Homo sapiens: one gene and its partners. The protein of the gene in region 3 purifies or fractionates together with the protein of the main gene of each other region. This does not show direct contact. Each region holds a gene or a part of one and is shown on either strand. Other genes may lie near its edges. The genes, in order: KIF13B, COL4A4, FGD6 and ZBTB21.

Region 1 (3,570 bases), on a different chromosome or scaffold from region 3:
CAAAGATGTGCAGGATAAACTGGAAGCATAAGTCTTGATCTTCCATCAAAGGAGCTCCCAGTCTTGTTGATAATAAGATGCACATGTGAGTTCATTGGAAGAATATATGTACCTAGTGCACTGATGGCAGCCAATCATGAATTAAAGAAATGGGGGTGGAATTTGAGAACAGCACAGAAGACAGCACAAGCAGGCCCCTTGGCTCCAAGTTCCACCGGGGTGACGTGGAGGAATCCAGATGGGTGCTGCACATACAGTGGGTTTGTGTCGGCATCTGAGGATCACTGAACTTGGGGAATCCGCTGCAAAGTCTCTGATTTAGATGACTAGGTGAATGCTGGTGTCATTAACTGAATCAGAAGCACAGGAGAAGCAGGTTTTAGGGTGGAGGTGTGGGAAATGATGAGTTCTAGTCTCAGTCAACAGTGTGTCGTCAGTGCTTATGTGCTGTGTACCCTGCCTGCAACTATGAATAAGATGCAGTGTGTGCCTGGAAGCAACTCAGCACAATTGAGTTTTAGGTGTCTGAAGTGCAGCCAGGTGGATGGATCCAGAAGGCCATTGTGAATATGAGTCTGAAACGAAGGGACTGGACGTAGGTGTAGATTTCGGAGTCATTACTGTAGGTAGAAGATAGAGCACCTCAGGTGTGTCTGTGACAGAGGCGGTCACAGAGGCCAAGAAGAGCAACCTCAGGAGAATCAGGTGAAAGCAATGTTGTGGATGCCTAGGGAGGAAAAATGTGTCAAAAGAGTGAAAGGTGAAAGCAATCACATGTCACAGGAATGGCCGCGTGATTAACACAGAATTGTGTTCAGTGGATTTGGCATTATGATGGTCAGTGTTCATTTTCAGGATAATTTCACTGAAACGAATTAATTGGTATTGGGCATTGGCAGTGGGCTGAGGAGTGAGTGGGCGTGCCAGTATGGAGGCAGCGAGTCTCAAGAACATTCCTCTGAGAAACTCCAGGTAGAAGGGGAGGGTTCAGAGTGGTACCTGGAGGGGTAGGTACCTTTTTTTAAAAAAAAAAGTTTTGGGGAGATATTTGAACCTTGTATAGATAGAGCCAATAGATAGAAGTTTTTGAAATATGGGAGGAAGAGAATAATTATATAATGGGAAAGCCCAGGAATTTCAAGCTTAATTTTCTTGATGGGGTAGAATGTGAGGTTATTGAAAGTAGGAGGAATTGGGTGAGCTGGGGTCTTCTGAGTAGTGAATGTGTAGGAATGTGGTTGAAGGACCCTAACTGTATTTTCTATCTATTGAGGGTACTGGGGTCATCCATTCCGAGTTTTTTCTTCTTGGTTTTTAGATATAAGTCACATCCCCAAAGTGTACCATTCACTGGGTTTTAGTTTACTCACAGACTTGTGCAGCCATTATTAGTATACAATTCCAGAACATTTTCATCACCCCACAGAGGAACCTTGTAACTGTTAGCAGTCAGTCTCCATTTCCCACTTCCCAGCCCCTGGCAACCACTAATCTACTTCCTGACTCTATGGATTTGCTTATTCTGGACATTTAATACATGGAATCCTATATTATGTGGACTTTTGTATCTCACTTCTTTCACTTGGTATAATGTATTCAGGGCTCATCCATGTTTTGTCATGAATCAATACTTCATTCTTTTTATAGCTGAACAACATTCTGTTACACAGATATGCTGTGTTTTGTATTCATTCATCAATTGATGGGCATTTGGCTTGTTTCCAATTTTTGGCTATTATGAATGATGCTCCTTTGAACATTTATGTACAGGCTTTTGTGTAGACATGTGTTTTCATTTTTCTCAGATACGCATATGTATAGGAGTGGAATTTCTGAGTCATATAGTAACTAACTTTTGAGGAACTGTTTTCCAAAGCATATGAACCATTTTACATTCCCATAGAAATGCATGAAGGTTCCACTTTCTCCACATCCTCACCAACACTTGTTCTTGTCTCTCTCCATGAGTATTGCTATCCTAGTGGGTATGAGGTGGTATCTGATTGTGGTTTAGATTTGCCTTTCTCTGGTAGATAATGTTGAGCGTCTTTTCATGTGCATATTGGCCGTTTGTATAGCTTGAGAGAGATCTCTATTCACATCTTCCCCTTATTTCAAAAACTATATCTTTTTATTACTGAGTTGTAAGACTTCTTCATACATTCTGTATACCATTCTGTTATCAAATAGATGATTTGCAAATATTTTGATTTTATGGGTTTCTTTTTCACTCCCTTGTGTCCTTTGATGCATGAAAGTTTTAAATTTTGATGAAGTCCAGTTTATTTTTAGTTGCTTGTGATTTTGCTGTGATTTCTGAGAAACCATTATCTAACATCATGTGGATTTTCATTTGTTTTCTTCTAAGAGTTTGATAGGTTTAGCTCTTACATTTAGATCTTTGATCCAGTTGGAGTTTTGAATGTGGTATGAGGTAGGGATCCAACTTCATTCTTTGGCATGTGGATATCCAGTTGTTCTAGAACCATTTGATGAAAAGACTGTTCTTTCTCCATTAGATTGTCTTGGTACCCTTGTCAAAATCAATTGACCATAACTGTGACAGTATGTTTCTGGACTCCCAATTCCATTCCATCAATGTATATATGTCTTTCCTTATGTAAGTACCACACTGTCTTGATTACTCTACCTTTGTATTAAGTTTCGAAACTGGGAGTCAAGTCCTCTGACTTTGTTTTTCTTTTTCAAGATTGTTTTGGCTATTCTAGTTCTGCCTTAAGCGGGTTTTTTTTTTTTTTTTTTTTTTTTTTTGAGACAGTCTCACTCTTCTCACCCAGGCTGGAGTGTAATGTCGTAATCTTGGCTCACTGCAGCCTCTGCCTCCCAGATTCAAGCAGTTCTCCTTTCTCAGCCTCCTGAGTTTCTGGGATTACAGGTGCCTGCCACCCTGCCTGGCTAATTTTTGTATTTTTGGTAGAGATAGGGTTTCACCATGTTGGCCAGGTGCCTTATGAGTTTTTTAAATACCTGTTTCTTAGTCTTCTGAGGTTGATTGGTTTCTTTTTTAAACTGTTTATTTGTTTAGAGATGGAGTCTCATTCTGTTGCCCAGGCTGAAGTGCAGTGGTGTGATCATAGCTCACTATGACCTTGACCTCCTGGGCTCAAGATGTCTTCCCACCTCAGCCTCCCAAAGTGCTAGGATTACAGGCATGAGCCACTGCACCCAGCTGATTCATTTCTTGAGTATGAACATTTTATGTTTTTGGTCACATAGGATTATTTTATTTGTTTTCAGATATGGGGTCTTGCTCTGTTGCCCAGGCTGGAGTGTAGTAGCACAATCATAGCTCATCACAGCCTGTAACTCATGGGCTCAAATGATCCTTCCATCTCAGCCTCCTGAGAAGCTGGGCTACAGGTGCATGCCACTACACCTGGCTAATTATTTTTTTTAAATTTGTTTTAGGGACAGGTTCTTGCTGTGTTGCTCAGGCTAGTCTTGAACTCCTGGCCTCAAGTGATCCCCCTGCTTCAGACTCCCAAGTAGCTGGGGGATTATTTTAATTATTTTCACACTATCACATCTCCTCTCCTAACCTGGCATCTC
Region 2 (3,570 bases), on a different chromosome or scaffold from region 3:
TGTAGAGGAAATAAATAATTTTGTGAAAGACATCAATTATCAAAACTGACATAAGAAACAATAGAAAATTTAAATGGCCCTATAGCAATTAAATTTATAATTAATGAATTTTGTAAGTAAAAACCTTCCCCAAAGAAAACTTCAGGGCTAGGTGGCTTTACTAGTGAATTCTATCAAACATTTAATGAAAAAATAATACCAGTTTTTTTATATCCTCTTTCTGAATATAGAAAAAAAGAGAGTGCTGGCCAACTTATTTTATGAGGCTAGCATTATTCAGATACCAAAACTGACAAAGATATTACAGGAAAACTACAGAACAATATATCTTGTGAATATAAACATGACTCTCCTTAACATAATATTAACAAATAAAATCCATATATATGTAAATGCAAATGACCTAGAATAGCCTAAGCAATTTTTATAAAAAGCAACAAAGTTGAAGGACTTACACTAGTCTTGCTAAAAAACTAGTCATAAGAATGATGGTAAATGAATAGACATGTAGATAAATGGAACCAAAAGACTCAAACATGATGATCAATTGATTTTTCACAAAGGTGCCATGGCAATCATGGCAATTTAGTGGGGGAAAAAGTCTTTTCAACAACTGGTGCCACAACAAGTGGATATTCACATGGAAAAAAAATTTAATGAATCCTTATCTCATACCATACCCAGAAATTAACTTAAAAGAGATCATTGAGGTAAAAGTAACAATACTACACAAGAAGAAAACATAGGAGAAAATTTCTGCAATTTTGGCATAGGTATAGAGTTCTCAGGTAACAAGAAAAGCACAAATCACAAAAGAAAAAAATTATAAATTATATTCCATCAAAATAAAAACTTTTGCTTCTTAAAAATAATAAGAAAATGAAAAGACAATTCTCAGAATGGGAGAAAATACTCACAATACTTGTATCTAACATTGATCTTGTATCCACAATATATAAATAACTCTTACTATTCAACAATAAGAAGATAAAAAGCCAAATTTTAAGCGGAAAAAAGATTTGAATAGGCACTTCACAAAAGAAGCTACATGAATGTTCAATAAGTACATTAAAAGATATTCAACATCGTTAGTTATTGGAGAAATGCAAACCACTCTGGGATACTTCTGTATAAACATTAGGATGGCTAAAATTAAAAAATTAACAGCAAAATAAATATATGGAGCAACTGGAACTCCTATGCATGGTATTCTACCTTGCATTGAGAAGGTAGAATAAAACCACTTTGGAAAACTATTTCTTTTATAATTAAATGTACATCTACCATATGACCTAACCATTTCATTCCTAGGTATTTACTTAAGAGAAATGAAAATGCATGCCCACAAAAAGACTTGTAGAAAAATATTCATAGTAGCTTGATTTGTAGTAGCCCCAAACTGGAAACAATCCAAATTCCCAAAAATAGGTAAATGGACTTTTTTTCAAAGTGTGATCTCCACACAATGGACTACTACTCAGCAATAGAAAATAACAAACTCCTAATCTACACAACATGGATGAATCTGAATATTGCTATGCAGAGTCAGAGAAGCCAGATGTAAGATAGTATACACGGTATAATTCCGTCAACACAAAATTCTAGAAAATGCCAACTAAAATGAAGTCTACAGTGACAGAAAGCAGATCAGTAGTGGTCTGAGGATGGGGTTTGGAAAGAGGGATGGATAGCAAAGAGGCAGAAAGAAACTTCTGGGAGTGATAGAAAAATACTGCAGCTTGATGGGCAGTGGTGGTTTCATAGGGTGGATGCATCGGCAAAACTTTTTTAATTCCATGCTTTAAGTGGATGCAATTTATGGAACATAGATTATACCTCAAGAAATATACTTTTTAGATTCCCTAATGATATGGTTTGACTTTGTGTCCCCACCTAAATCTCATCTTGAATTGTAATCACATAATCCCCATATGTCATGGGAGGGACCCAGTGGGAGGTAATTGAATCATGGGGGTGGTTTCCCACATGCTATTCTCATGATACTGAGTGAGTTCTCATGAGATCTGATGGTTTTACAAGGGGCTTCCCCCTTCGCTCAGCACTCATTCTCTCTCCTGCTGCCCTGTGAAGAGGTGCCTTCCACCATGATTGTAAGTTTCCTGAGGCCTCCCCAGCCATGCAGAATTGTGAGTCAATTAAGCCTCTTTTCTTTATAAATTACCCAGTCTCAGGTGATTCTTCATGGCAGTATGAGAACAGACTAATACACTTAACAAATAATCTCTGAACATTCCCTCAAAGGCTTTGTAATATAGAACAACAAATCACCACATATTATTTCTGTGCTATATAATAAAGTTCTGGACAAAGGTGTTCACAGGGACCATGCTCTTTAATCCTTGACCTAGATCTTAAAGCACAGGTAGTTGTAGAAGACAGACCAAGAAGGAGGTCCCTGTGGGCAGAGGCAATAGTAAATACGAAGGTGTGAGGTGAGGAAGTCTGTATAGTGAACCAGAGAAATCATAAAAAGCTTGGGATGACACAAGAGATAAAACAAAAATGTTGACTTGAGACCACACTATTCTATTCCAAGAAATGTGAAATCAGTTGTGAAGTTAAAGGGGAACTTCTGGAAGCTTTTAAACAAACAAGTGGCACGATGTGTGTGATGAGTATTACTGACATTTGCCACCTGTTTCCCACTCTTTCCAGGCATGTGGTAGATTTCATTTCCCTGCCCCTTACAGAATAAAGCATGATCACGTGATCCACTTAGCCAGTGAAATGTGAGTAGAAGTAGCCTGTGTCACATCTAGGAGGAAGGTTGAAGGGTAGTTTTACTTTAGCACATTCTCTTCCCCTTCTGAGGTGATTAGAGAAGATGTTGAGAGGGAATTTCCAGGAGGTCCCTGAGTGGCTACAATAAACAGAGGACCCCCACCCCATTCCCACCTCCCCATGTCCCGTGATGAATATGTAGTAGAAATGATAAGAAAACTTCCATAATGATAAGCCTCTGGACTGGGGGGATTGTTTGTAACTGCCTCTAAAGTCACCTGTCCTTGCTAGCATAATTTGCAATTTTAATTGGTAACTCTGATAATTACATAGAAGATGAGTTTCAGAGTAGAAAGCCTGCAGGACAGAAAACTAGCTAGATAGCTACCATAATCCACAGATGATAGTGCAAGGCAGGAGCCACGAACTTAGAGAAGCAGAAGAGGAGTCCAGAGATGCAATGGCAAGAAATGATATGAGTTGGTAATCACTCAGATTCTAAAAGCACCCAAGAGCCTAATTGTTTCAGAGGTATGGAAAAGAGAAAGTTCTTAAAAGGAAAAGGATGGCTAAGAGGGGAGATGAAATGAAACAAGATTAATGAAGCAGCTGTGGGCAGCATAAGAGGTGTATCTTGTATCTCATTAAAAGTAGAGGCTCGTCCCTCTACAATGAAGGCTAGAGGTAGATCATGAACTTAGGAAGAAACCAGACTAAGTGTGAATGCTGGGTGAATTTGACAAGTCATTCAACTTCATTTGTGCTTTCATTAATTCATTCAGGAAACAGTAACAGCCTCACTCATTCATTCAACATCAGTAAAGAACA
Region 3 (3,570 bases):
AAAAAAAAAAAAAAAAAAAAAACACAACAACAATAAAGGAAAAGAAAAGAAAAAGTCACAATGCTAAGTGATTGAGAGTTTACCTGCACTCTCTAAATATTGGTATCTGGTGGATGCTTCAGGTACCCCCAAGAAATTTGCTTGTTCTGACTGCTAGCTGCGAAGCATTTGACAAACCCTAGACACAGGTATTTGTCTTCTCCTGTCATCCTGTATGTCAGGCAGCAGTAGCCATTGCATTTCAGAGGAGTAGCACACCCCAGGATGACTCTTGTGGTCCTCTGATTTTGGGAAGTCAGACATTTGGTTTGAGTCCTTGACATTCATGGACGTAAGCAAAATTATAAAGGTTGTCAGAAACACCTAGGTTCAAATCACAGCTCCACTGCTTACTACTCGTGTAACCTTAGATGTGTTATTGAACCTCTCTGAGCCTCCATTTTTCTAATCTGGAAGATCAAGATAATATCCACCCCACAAAGTTATCATAGAACTTAAAAGAGAAAATAAATATAAAACGAAACATGAGCACTGTGACTGATGCAGAGTAATAAATGATTCTGGCCACTACTCCACCTGCTCCTAAGATCCTAGTTGATTTCAGTGGTATGGACAATTGGAAACAGACTGCCTGGTTTCAAATCCTGGCTCTGCTAGTATAGCTGAGTGGCTTTTCTCAGCATAGAATGGGTATAATAACGACAACTTGCCTTACAGGTTGCTGTGAAGATGAAACGAAGTACTACACATAAAGTCTTTATGATGGTGCCTGGCATACAGTAAGTGTTACAAAAGCGTTTGCTTCTATTTTTATTAGATCAAAGGTTAGGTCTGAGAAGACAGTGTCTCATTATTTAGATTGTGCAGTGGAGCATGCTATGACTATTGGCATCTCTCCCTTCACCAGTCAAACCTTCCCAAATACCCACTTCCGCCACTCAGTCAGTAACTCAGTAATGTATTTTTATGAGTCATAGAGTTTCAGGTTTCCTCAGCACTTGAATTACATTATGGCAACATATTAAGTCACTGCAGGTTCCGGTCTGGGGCAAGGTGGTATCATAAATAATAATGGATTTCTTTTCCCGCCCTCCCTCCATTCTTTCTGAGATGGAGTCTTGCTCTATCACCCAGGCTGGAGTGCAGTGGAGTGATCTCGGTTCACTGCAACCTCCACCACCCAGGTTCAAGTGATTCTCCTGCCTCAGCCTCCCAAGTAGCTGGGATCATAGGCACATGCCACCATGTCTGGCTAATTTTTTTGTATTTTTAGTAGAGATGGGGTTTCACCATGTTGGCCAGGCTGGTCTCAAACTCCTGACCTCAGGTGATCCACCCGCCTTGGCCTCCCAAAGTGCTTGATTACAGGCGTAAGCTACTGCACCCAGCCCATAACAATGGACTTAAAAGCAAAAGACTTCGATTTGCATCCTGGCTGTGTCAAATATGTATCCGTAAGACAGCAACTCCATTTTTCTGTAATTTAGTTTCCTAATTTTTAGAAGGAGATTACACCTACCTCATAGGTTTGTTAGAACCTTTAAGTGACACCTACAAATTTCCTAATAACCTATAAAGCACTAGTTGTTCTTAAAAACAATTTGAAATAGCCACTTAAAAAATGATCAGCAAAGCACTTTCACCATTGTTATTCTATTCAGAAGAACATTTTAATCTCTGTGCTTCTAGCATACTGTTGCCTCTGCTCTCAGCCACTTCCTTGCATGGTAAATCAAGAGTAAAACTGCACGGTATTGGGAAAGAAGAAAAAGAAGAACAAAAAGTCAGTAGCTAACCTAAGTGCAAAAAGTGTTGGCAATATCTTTCCCTGTTATACTCACAAAAATCTATGTTTATGTATTCTTAAAAATAGGCCGGCACAGTGACTCACACCTGTAATCTCAGCACTTTGGGAAGCTAAGGTGGGAAGATTGCATGAGCTCAGGAGTTCAAGATCAGCCTGGGGAACATATGGAGACCCCATCTCTAAAAAAAAAATTTTTTTTTTTGAGACAGAATCTCTCTCTGTCACCTAGGCTGGAGTGCAGTGGTGGGATCTTCGCTCACTGCAACCTCCGCCTCCTGGGTTCAAGCAATTCTCCTGCCTCAGCCTCCTGAGTAGCTGGGACTACAGGTGCCTGCCACCATACTTGGCTAATTTTTGTATTGTTAGTAGAGATGGGGTTTAATCATGTTCATGTTAGCTAGGCTGGTCTCAAACTCCTGACCTCAAGTGATCTGCCCAGCTCAGCCTCCCGAAGTCCTGGTATTACAGGGGTGAGCTACCACACCTGGCATACAAAAAAATATTTTTAAAGTTAGCCGGGTATGGTAGTGCATGCCTGTGGTCCCAGCTACTCAAGAGGCTGAGGTGGGAGAACTGCTTGGGCCATGGAGGTGGAGGCTGCAGTGAGCCGTGATTGTGCCACTGCATTCCAGCCTGGGTGACAGAGTGAGATGCTGTCTCAAAAAAAACCAAAAACCAAAATTTTCCTGACATTCCCTAGCAAGCAGACTCAGAATGAGAAAAAAAAAAAAAAAAAGAAGAAGAAAAAATTTACCTGGCTGAGAGAATGAAGGAACGTTCTACACTTTCAATCTTTAATTCATTCTGATAGGCTTCTTGGGTAGGTTTTCTGACCTGGAAGAAAGCACAACAATTTGAGCCGACTCATCCTACTGAAAACCATATCAATGAGCTGAAGTTGTCCAATGGCCCTGGCTGCTTACATCCACAACCAATCTTCCTATCCAGCTTTCTCTACTGCTGTTCTCCTTCATCTACTCTATGCTTCAGATGAATTGAAAAGCCCACACACCAGCCCACCTTTCCCACCTCCAGGACTTTGCTCACAGTATGCCCTCCACCTGGAATGCCTTTCCCTTACATCTCAGCATGGCCAAATGTGACCTATACTTTAAGGTCCACTGGCTCTTCCTCCTCTTTCTCCTTCTTTCCTAGCTGCTCTCAAAAGCTACAGGCCAGTCCCCACCATGACCATCAAACACTGCAAGTTCTTTATTTTCTGAATTCCCAAAACTGTAATTGTGCCTTTATAGTGATATTTATTACTGTCTACTTTATAGGTATTTACGTGTAGTGTACTGTCTTCCCAACTAGTTGCTAAGTCCCTGGGGGAGGAAAGACAATAAGAATCATGCTTCAACTTATCTTCATATCTTCCACCAAACCCATTACTGTTTTGTTTATAGTAGTTCTCAATAAATATCCTATGAATACATTAATGCATGAGTGAACAAATGACTACATGAATGAATAATCAAATGCATAAACAGGCAGGGCGCAGTGGCTCACGCCTGTAATCTCAGCACTTTGGGATGCGACGGTGGGTGGATCACTTGAGGTCAGGACTTTGAGACCAGCCTGGCCGACATAGTGAAACCCCGTCTCTGTGAAAAATACAAAAATTAGCTGAGCCTGTAGTCCCATCTACTCAAGAGGCTGAGTCAGGAGAATCTCTCAAACTCGGGAGGCAGAGGTTGCAGTGAGCTGAGATCGCACCACTGCACTCTAGCCTGGGTAACAGAGTGAGACTCTGTCACAAAAAA
Region 4 (3,570 bases), on a different chromosome or scaffold from region 3:
TATATGTCGTATATATTGTTCTTGGAAAGCATGTTGAAACTGCAGTGAGGTGTTTCTCCTCTGCTCTATCTGGAAGTAAATGGTAATTTAGAATTTTACATCAGCTGTGCTAATTCTTGAGTGTCTGGGATCTATGTAAATATATGTCCCGACCTTATTTGTTACACTAATGTTAAAATCAAAATTAGTGCCATATGGTTAGCTTTGTTTTTTGTCCTAACTACACTCAGATTTTCAATTTGTGACAGCATAAATCAGAGGAAATGAAATATGTGCAGTCCTTCAAATGCTGGTCTGAATTTAGACTGTGGTGCAGTGTACATGTAACATGGTACAAGTTTTTATAACAATGTCTATCACTACTGAAGCCCTTATAAACTGACTGTAGGGGACTTCCATAAATTGTTTTCATTTCCCAGGTCTTCCTTAGAGTTTAACTATCATTTATTATATTGACTGAGAGCAAGTTTTTGTTAGTTTATAAAAATCTAAGTGTTACTATTGCTGATTTAAATTTCTCACAATTTTCATACAAAAAGAAGTTTTACATGACCACAAAATACCAAATATTTATTTTTATCAAGTGTCAGGATAACTTATTAAAGTTGAGATTTATCTTTTATTGCTAAAGTAGTCTAAGATATAAATCAATACTGCAAACTACTCCACTTCTTCCTATTTTGGACTTAAGAACATGGTTAAGATTTAACTAGAACTCAAGTGTCTAAAATAATTAAAAGAAGGAATACTTCGACAGTATTCCACTAATCAATAAAAAACCAAAAACCTCAATTAAATGATTATACTGACACCATGGAATGAGGAACCATGCACACAATCAAGACTAATCCAATTTCAACATTAATGAAATCAAACCATCTTGTTCTTGTAAGGTCCAGAACCACAATATTTTAAAAGCTGTATTTCTAAAGTTAAGGACATTACTAAGTAATTATCAATTTGCCTCCAACTTAATTTCAAGCGTAACAATCTCCAACCTTTATTATTCTTGTTTAAAAAATATTTTGTTTCTTATGACACATTTCACAATTCAGGTTGAAATCTGGGGACTGCCTCCCATAGGTAAAAAGTGTTGGTCTTTCAATTGTGTGTTTGTTCGTGACTCCAAAGACTAAATGCAGTCTTGAATGTCCTGTGGCAAAGTTTACACATAAACTGTCTTTTAAATGTGATTGCTGAAAGGGGTGGGGCATGGTAAAAAAGGGTGTCTGATTCTTGGGGCACAAACAGTTTTTCTGTGGCTGGAGTTGGGTTTTCGGACAGGCCTGTGGGGCTGTCAGGCTCCAGAGGCTGGATCTTGGGCAGTGGTGGTGGCGGTGGCAGAGGTGGTGGAGAGGGAGAGTTTGTGGGAACAGGGCACACCTCAGATTCCTTATGTGCCGATTCCTCTGAAGCCTGAGACATGTGCGATTGGAAGTGACTCCAGAGTCGAAAATTAGTGCGAAAAGCTTTGTTGCACACGTGACAAATAAATGGTTTCACAGAGCACAGAAGCTCCTGGTGACGCTCCAGCTGCTTATGCACCGTGAACATCTTCCCACACTTCTCGCAGGGCCACAGGCTGGCTTCTTTGCTAGGACCCGCTTCTTTGGGGGCTGTGCTGGCCTCGGGTGCCTCTTCTTCAGCCTCCTCCACAGGCTCCTCTTTGACTTGGATTTTCAGTTGCTTGGAAAGACTAAGGTCTTCGGGAAGACAAGAGGAATCTTCCGAGTCGAAGTTAACTTGTTCTGAAGAATCACTGAACACGTTGTCGTCTTTTGTGGTGACGATGTGGTTTACTTTGTTGGGCTCAGGCTGGGATTGGGGCCTTGAAGAACCAGTCACATCACCATTGTGGTCCAAAACGGGCAAAGAAAAGTTTTCGGTGGGTGCCATGTTGTTCTGATTATGGACTTCAACCTGGTGCCGCCAGATGCTGAAAGAGGACTTGAAGGTGCGCATGCACTCGAGGCAGGTCAGCTTCTTATACTCACACTTGCTCTCGTGTTCTTGCTTCAGCTCGGGCGAGAAAAACCTGAGGCTGCAGTAAGGGCAGACGGCCGCGTTCCGGCACAGCCGCTCGTGGCTTCCTTGCTCTAGGAGAGAAGAGAGCTTAGCATTACAGAGGCGGCACTGGTAAACCTCCTTGTTTTCTACTGGACTTGCAAGAGGAGCATGCTCTTTTGGTTTAGCAACTTTATTTACTCCAAGGGGTTTTTCTCCTGGATGCATTTTTATATGCTGCTTAAATTGAGAGAGAAAGCGGTACGCTTTTCCGCAGTAAGTACAAATGTAAGCTCCTTTGGCTCGAGATCTCAAGTTCCTCTTGATGACTTGCTGTGCTTGGGAGCTACTCTGTCCCTGAAAACCAGGCTTGCCGCGCCTTAACTTAATGATCAGGGCCTTCTTAATTTCTCTCTCTCTCACTATGTCAATCAGCTTTCTTTGGAATTTTTCATCCAAAACAGCATGTGAACTAGAGGCTGGTGATGGGTTCTTCACTATGCCGTGTTGGGTCTGACAGTGTGTCCACACTTTGAAGTTGGTGTGAAACCTCTTGTGACAGATGTCACAAGCGTAGGGCTTTTCTGGGTTATGGTACATGTTAACATGACGGTGAAGACCTGCTGTTGATCTAAAGATCTTAAGGCAATGTTTGCATTTAAATTTTTTGTTTGGTCTCGTCCCCTCCAACTCACCAAATTCGTCTTTATTCAAATCAGAATCTGGAAAATCTGCATCAAGGAGAGTAGGGCTTGAGCCTTCCTCAAAATTATCTTCTGACACAGGAGACCCGTGCTCATTCACCTTTAACTTCTTAAACGGCAATCTTCGGTCCGCTTGGAACCTCCTTTTTGCTGGGAGTCTGCTCATGTCTTTTTGGTCATCTTCTGTTTTCAGAGACAGGTCTCTTGTGACCGACGAAGATGAGGCAGCTGCTGTTGTTGCCGCATCTCCCACAGTGACGCGGATGATGTCCGAGGGGTCCGACAGCGGGCTGCTGGGCTCAGTCTTTATGCGCACCTCAGTCACAGGGGAAGCTCCCTCCCTGTCTGTTGACTGAGAAGCACTAAAGGACCTGAGGCGATGCGGTTGTAGCACTTGAGGCCTGTCATCTAGGGCTGTTTTTTCACTACAATCTTTTAAAGATGACTTCTGAGATAAAGCACACAACACATTCCCTGGTGCATCACTGGACACCGAAGATGATCCCTGGGAAGATTTCAAATCTATGGAAGGTGAATAGACAGGAACCTGGCTATCCATCGACAATGACCGTCTGAGGAGACTCTTAACAAGTGGGCCACTCCTGTCAATGCTTTGGTTTCCAGAACCAGATCCACTGGATGGGATCACTAAGCCTAACTTTGAATAGTACAACAAGTTTCTATCTTCACCTTGACCATTTCCTTTGTTAGTTTCTTTTAATAGATAGGGAGTCTCTGATGAGCTACAAACAGACAAAACAGGTGGCCGTGGTCTCTTCAAAGCCAGCTCTAGAGCTTTTCCTTTTGGAAGCTGACCACTCACACCTGGTTTATCATCCATAGCTTCTCTGTCTTGCAGAGG

What was found.
Region 1: the proteins of FGD6 (region 3) and KIF13B purify together in Homo sapiens (affinity purification with mass spectrometry, with the first as the bait; one large-scale study listed by BioGRID). This does not show direct contact.
Region 2: the proteins of FGD6 (region 3) and COL4A4 purify together in Homo sapiens (affinity purification with mass spectrometry; one large-scale study listed by BioGRID and IntAct). This does not show direct contact.
Region 4: the proteins of FGD6 (region 3) and ZBTB21 purify together in Homo sapiens (affinity purification with mass spectrometry, with the first as the bait; one large-scale study listed by BioGRID). This does not show direct contact.

The regions. Positions count from the first base shown.
Region 1 is NC_000008.11:29,253,031-29,256,600, reverse strand, and holds part of KIF13B (kinesin-like protein KIF13B), read left to right. Parts: intron 1-3,570. UniProt on the Homo sapiens protein: Involved in reorganization of the cortical cytoskeleton. Regulates axon formation by promoting the formation of extra axons. May be functionally important for the intracellular trafficking of MAGUKs and associated protein complexes.
Region 2 is NC_000002.12:227,157,647-227,161,216, forward strand, and holds part of COL4A4 (collagen alpha-4(IV) chain precursor), read right to left. Parts: intron 1-3,570. UniProt on the Homo sapiens protein: Type IV collagen is the major structural component of glomerular basement membranes (GBM), forming a 'chicken-wire' meshwork together with laminins, proteoglycans and entactin/nidogen.
Region 3 is NC_000012.12:95,102,446-95,106,015, forward strand, and holds part of FGD6 (FYVE, RhoGEF and PH domain-containing protein 6), read right to left. Parts: intron 2,642-3,570; coding exon 2,562-2,641; intron 1-2,561. UniProt on the Homo sapiens protein: May activate CDC42, a member of the Ras-like family of Rho- and Rac proteins, by exchanging bound GDP for free GTP. May play a role in regulating the actin cytoskeleton and cell shape.
Region 4 is NC_000021.9:41,989,794-41,993,363, forward strand, and holds part of ZBTB21 (zinc finger and BTB domain-containing protein 21), read right to left. Parts: coding exon 1,102-3,570; 3' UTR 1-1,101. UniProt on the Homo sapiens protein: Acts as a transcription repressor.